Regions from separate parts of the Homo sapiens genome. Here region 2 is linked to region 1. The links come from fine-mapping of genetic effects on gene expression. A gene starts in region 1. The other region holds a variant in brackets. All regions are shown on one strand. Distances are from middle to middle. Region 1 holds the start of ARHGDIB (Rho GDP dissociation inhibitor beta). Region 2 has its middle 17 kb from the start of MGP.

What was found. PIP is the estimated chance that this variant, and not a neighbour inherited with it, causes the effect.
Region 2: its variant is the best candidate, but not a certain one, in a credible set for the expression of ARHGDIB in nasal epithelium (TOPMed, PIP 0.70).

Annotation. Positions count from the first base shown.
Region 1 is chr12:14,960,485-14,963,402 of GRCh38, reverse strand. It overlaps ARHGDIB (Rho GDP dissociation inhibitor beta), which reads left to right and starts at 1,802. Exons shown (of 6, transcript NM_001175.7): 1 at 1,802-1,866. RefSeq lists an enhancer at 1,980-2,099.
Region 2 is chr12:14,867,413-14,870,330 of GRCh38, reverse strand. No RefSeq gene overlaps it. Among named protein-coding and RNA genes, the nearest start is that of MGP, 17 kb to the left of the region's middle. The variant G/A (reference allele first, on the strand shown) is at 1,234.

The sequences.
Region 1 (2,918 bases):
TTCCGTGGCTCCTTGCATATGACCAGGAATTAAGTATATTTTGATAATTGGAGTCCTTTTAGAACTTTCTAAAATTATGAATGCTCTCTCATCCCCCAATAAATACATTAATCTATAATACAAATCTGTAAAATATGTATTGATTTTACAGATTTTTCTGGGAAGGGGTGCTCCCATACCCTCCGATATACACTGGGCTCTGGAGGGAAAAAAAAAGCCAGGTTTGCCTAGTGAGGTGTTCCCTAATAACATGAGAAATGAGTGGTGGAATAGAGACCATGCATTTACCATTTTTCATTTTTAAATATTTCTTGTTACAATTAATGTATTCTGCCTGTGTTATTTTAATTGTCTCCTAGGTACAACATAAGTTCCACAGGGCAGCAGAGATGTCGCCTGCGGTCTATTGCTGCACAAGGGAACTAGAACAGTACTTGAAAGAAAAGAGGTGCTCGATAAATGTTATGGAATGAATAAATGTATCCCCTCTTGAGGGTGCAGAGCTATAGAATGTGTAAGTTACTGCCTTCTGTGTAAATTAGGGTTTGCTTTGTTTTTACAATAAAGTTATGTACATTGTTTCAAGGGCTGTATTCTGTCTATGCTATTTTAAAATTTATAGAATAAAGTGGTATTAGGCTTTTAGTATTTTTGCTCATTTTAATTATATACTATTTTCCTTTTCATATTTTTCTAGGCTAATCTCTTCTCACGTGAAATGACTCCCTTGATTATTCCGATTTCATTGACTCTAAGTAGAAGGCAAACCCTGTGGTATCAATTTACAAAGGGAAATGAAGAAGATGCAGTACATTTAGGTGAAAACAAAATAAACGTCAGTTTCTCCAAATTTGTGTGCTTAGTCAGATCTAAATATATTGATGTAGTGTAAATACTGAATATTGAAATATTAACCTAAATAAGCATTTATTATTGGTAACAGCTACGGGAATATACAGCATGAATGTGACTTGGCTGCTTAAAAACTGTTCCTCAGATGGTTTAAACATGGCCTCCGAGACTTGTTCCCATTTAAATTACTTCATAAACCATTTCCTCAAATATGGTACAAAGTCTATTTTGGCACTTGTTAAGTTGTCACAAATTCTGAGTTGGAAGACTATGAATTAATGAAGTTTTACTTCCTTTTGTAATTTCTTTCCTAGGTTTCATCAAAGACAGTACTTTCGCTTGCTTGTTTGTTTCATTTGAAGAAAAATCAGCCAAAACTATTAAAAACAATATTTGACTGTTTGTAGTGCAATACAAAGCTACGTCTTGAAATTATAACCAACAAAACTCCAAAAATCTGTTTAAGGACACATTTTTAAATTTAGGACCGTAGTATATGCAGTTAACAATCATCATTTCTTAGCACTCTACATTCACTGCCAGCAAACTTTCAACGTATCTGGTTGATAATGAAGCTGGCGGGGACCCAGTGGGAACAGAAGTGAGTGGTACAAAGTAAAGCCGATGTGAATTTATTGCTACTGGTTTCAGGCTCCTTACCTCCATAGGCTTATGCACTGCAATGACCTGATTATCAGAAATACCCTCACAATTATTCATAATACCCATAGCTATAGGCTCCACACTCTTGCGTGTACATTCATGCATCTCCACGTCACACGGGCTGTCATGCTCGCACATGTGCCATTAATTGACAAGAATGCTGCTCAAGTTGGCTGATCAAGAGATAGGCAGTGCAAAGGAACAGGATTTGAGACAGCCCAGGGTTTCCTCTTCAAGTAGGTCTAAAACATTTTTTTTTCTCATTGACTTCCTTCCTGTTCTAACTGCCAGTACTCAGAAGTCAGAGTTGAGAGACAGAGGCACCCCGGACAGAGACGTGAAGCACTGAATGTAAGTTCAAATACCTCGGGCTGGGGAGGCTTCAGGTGGGCACAGAGCAAAGTCGGAAACCTCTAGACGGGGCTACCGCCCTCGACAGTTTATTATTTTTTTAGAGGGGCAGTTCTTCTTTAAAACAAACTTTATGATAAGAAATTGCTAAGGAGGCTGCAGAGAAGGGGAAGTTAGAGGAGGGAAGGGTAGCAGTGACTCAGGGGAGGAGGCTTAAAAAAGGAGGGTACAGGGTGCGCTGCAGCCCAGGAAGTGCAATCCTGAATATTCTCAGAAGGGCTCTGAGAACACGCACCGGGAGTGCCTGGAGGGGTTTCCTGCAAAGTAGGAGCAGGCACCTGGCCAGGCTTGGAAGAAAAAGACTGTAGATCCAAAATGATACGGTCTGTGCTGGTGGATGGTGGGTTGTGCTGGGGTGGAGATATGTGGTTTCCTGTTTTTAAGCAGACAATGTAAAAAGACTGGTTGAAAGAGAAAAAAAAATGGTTCAAAGCTGTCAAATATTAAACTGTCTTCCACTAAATAATTTTCTGGTGATATAAGAGAAATGCATAATGAAATCCTCCCTTAGAGTGCAGGGGCTTTATCCCTCAAAGAGGAAGTATGGTATAGCACATTGTTATGTACTCATGAGTCATACAGTGATAGAATTTCTACCACTGACAAAGGCTGTGTATTAAATTCCTGCAGTCGGATGGGCAGATCTTTGCTGTTGTTGTCAAAAATAATAATAGGGCTGGGCGTGGTGGCTCACGCCTGCAATCCCAGCACTTTGGGAGGCCGAGGCGGGTAGATCACCTGAGGTCAGGAGTTCAAGACCGGCTTGACCAACATGGTGAAACCCCATCTCTACTGAAAATACAAAATTAGCTGGGTGTGGTGGTGCATCCCTGTAATCCCAGTTATTTGGGAGGCTGAGGCAGGAGAATCACTTGAACCCAGGAGGCAGGGGTTGCAGTGAGCCAAGATCACGCCATTGCACTCCAGCATGGGCAACAAGAGCGAAACTCTGGCTCAAAAAATAAAAATATTAATAATGATAATAGCCCTTT
Region 2 (2,918 bases), 93 kb after region 1:
AAAGGAGTTTCTATTATTTTCTAAGCGTCTCTGTGACTCATAATCTTAAGTGTAATTAAACTAATACAAGCATGTATTACACATTTTATTTTGCTATGGTTTGTGTGATGTACCGGAAATGAAGCTGATGGGGAGAGGGCAGAGATGGCCAATTAGAAGCAGCTGTGGTACCTGGCTCTCACAAAGAGGAAAGAAAGGAGCAAGTGAATACCACACCTCCAACTGAAATATCCAGGTACTCGCAGTGAGGCTGATCAGGAAAACAGCTTGACCCATGGAGAACATAGAAAAGCAGGGTGGGGCGATAGCCCACCTGAGAGCAACACAGAGCCAAGGGAACCCCCATCCCCAGCCACAGGAAGCAGTGAGTGACTGTGTGACCCCAAGAAACCAGACTTCTCCCACAGATCTTTGCAACTGTCAAATCAAGAGATTCCCTTGTGAGCCCACACCACAGGGCCTTGGGTCCGACACACAGAGCTGTGTAGAGTCTCAGCACAGCAGCTGCTCAGGCACACACAGAGACCCAGGAGCTTTACCTACTCTGGCTTTGGGATCCTCAGCAAGGCAGGAGACCTGTATATACCCCTAGGAAGGGAGCTGAATCCAGGGGGCCAGTGTCAGTCTGTGGGCCTCACTTCCACGGTACCTCACAAGATAAGATCTACTGGCTTGGATTCCAGCCAGCTACTAGCAACAGGGTGGAGCCTGCCTGAGATGGGTCAGAGACCCGGAGGACAGAGGCAGGCCACCATCTCTGCTGTTTGGTCAACTCAGCCATTCCAGCCTGTGAGCTTTGGAAAATCCAAATGGTCTGGACAAGGAAAGATTCCCCCCAACACAGCAGAGCTGCTTTGCCAGAATGTGCCCAGATTGCCTCTTTAAGCAGTATCCCAAAACATTCCTCCTCACTGGGCAGGACCTCCCATCTGGAACCTTCGGCCACTCCTGCCCATTTTCTATGGACAGAGTTCTGATCTCTCCCTGAGGGAGAGGTGTGGGCCACCGCCTTGGTTGTTTGGACAACTAAGCCACTCCAGCCTGCAGGGTGTGGAGAGTGCAAGTTGACCAGCACAGAGGCAGCTCCCCAGCATGGCAGAGCTCTTTTGTCAAGGTGTAGTCAGACTGTTTCTTCAAACAGGAACCCAATCCACTCCTCCTTGCAGGGCAGGTCCTCCCAGTCAGGGCCTCTGGCTACCCTGCTCTAAGGACAGAGGTCTGATTTCTCCCTGG[G/A]ATGGGTGCCCAGGGGGAGGAGCAGGTCACCATCTTTGCTGTTTGGGTGACTCAGCCATTCCAGCCTGTGGGCTTTGGTGAGTCCAAGCTGACATGGCCGGGGATGGGTCCCCAGGACTCCATGACTGTCTTGTTAAGGTGTGGCCAGACTGCTTCTATAAAAGGGGGCAGGATCCATTCCTCCTTGCTGGGCAGGTCCTCCCAGCTGGGGCCCCAGGCCACCCCTGCCCATGTTCTATGACCAACAGAGTTCTAATTTCTCCCTGGAATGGGGGAGCCCACGAGATGGGGCAGGCCACCACCTTTGCTGTTTGGGCATCTCAGCTAGTCCACCCTGCAGACCTTGGATTGGGGGCTGAAGGGATCCTCAACATAGCACAGCTGCTCTACCAAAAAGCAGCCAGACTGATACTTTAAGCAGGTCCCTGATCTCGTTCCTAGTGACCCCAACCAGGGTCTCCAGCCACCTTGTACAGGCATGTTTAGGCCAGCAACAGGTCAGTAGCCCTCAGGGCAGAGCTCCCAGAGAGAGGGGCAGGCTGCCATCTTTGCTGTTTTGCAGCATTCACTGATGATACCTTCAGGTACTAGAAAAACCGAGGTGACTAGGGTCTGGATTGGACCCCCAGCCAAACACAGCAGCCCTACAGAAGAATGGCCAGGCTGTTAAAAGAAAAACAAACAAAGAAAAAACAACAATAACAACAACAAAAGAAAACACAAAAGAACCCATCCAAAGGTGAGCAACCTTAAAGATCAAAAGTAGATAAGCCCACAAAGATGAGAAAGTATCAATGCAAAAACAATGAAAACTCAAAAAACCAGAGTGCCCCCTTTCCTCCAAATGACCACAACACCTCTCCAGCAAGGGTTCAGAACTGGGCTGAGGCTGAGATGGCTGAAATGACAAAAGTAGTCTTCAGAATGTGGATGAAAACAAGCAAACAAACTTCGCTGAACTAAAGGAGCATGTTGTAACCCAATGCAAAGAAGCTAAGAAACATGATAAAACAATGCAGGAGTAGACAGCCAAAATAACCAGTATAGAGAGAAACATAATCGACCTTATAAAGCCAAAAAACACACTACAAGAACTTCACAATGCAATTCAAAGTATTAATAGCAGAATAGACCAAGCAGAGGAAAGAATCTCAGAGCTTGAAGACTGTCTTTCTGAAATTACAGACAGACAAGAATAGTGAAAAAGGAATGAACGAAACCTCCAATATGGGATTACGTAAAGAGACTAAATCTATGACAGATTTGGGTACCAAAAAGAGATGCAGAGGCTGGAATCAATTTGGAAAACATACTTCAGGGTATCATCCCAGAGAACTTCTGCAATCTAGCTACACAGGCCAACATTCAAATTCAGGAAATGCAGATAACCCTGGTAAGATACTTTACAAGATAATCCCCAAGACACATAATCATCAGATTCTCCAAGGTCAAAATGAAAGAAAAAAATGTTAAGGGCAGCCAGACAGAAAGGCTTGGTCACCTAACGAAAGGAAGCCCATCAGACTAACAGCAGACCTCTCAGTAGAAACCCTACAAGCCAGAAGAGATTAGGGGCCAATATTCCACATTCTTAAAGAAAAGAATTTCCAGATTCTGTTCCAAGATGGCCAAGTAGGAACAGCTCCAGTCTGCAACTCCCAGCGTGATTGATGCAGAAGATGGGT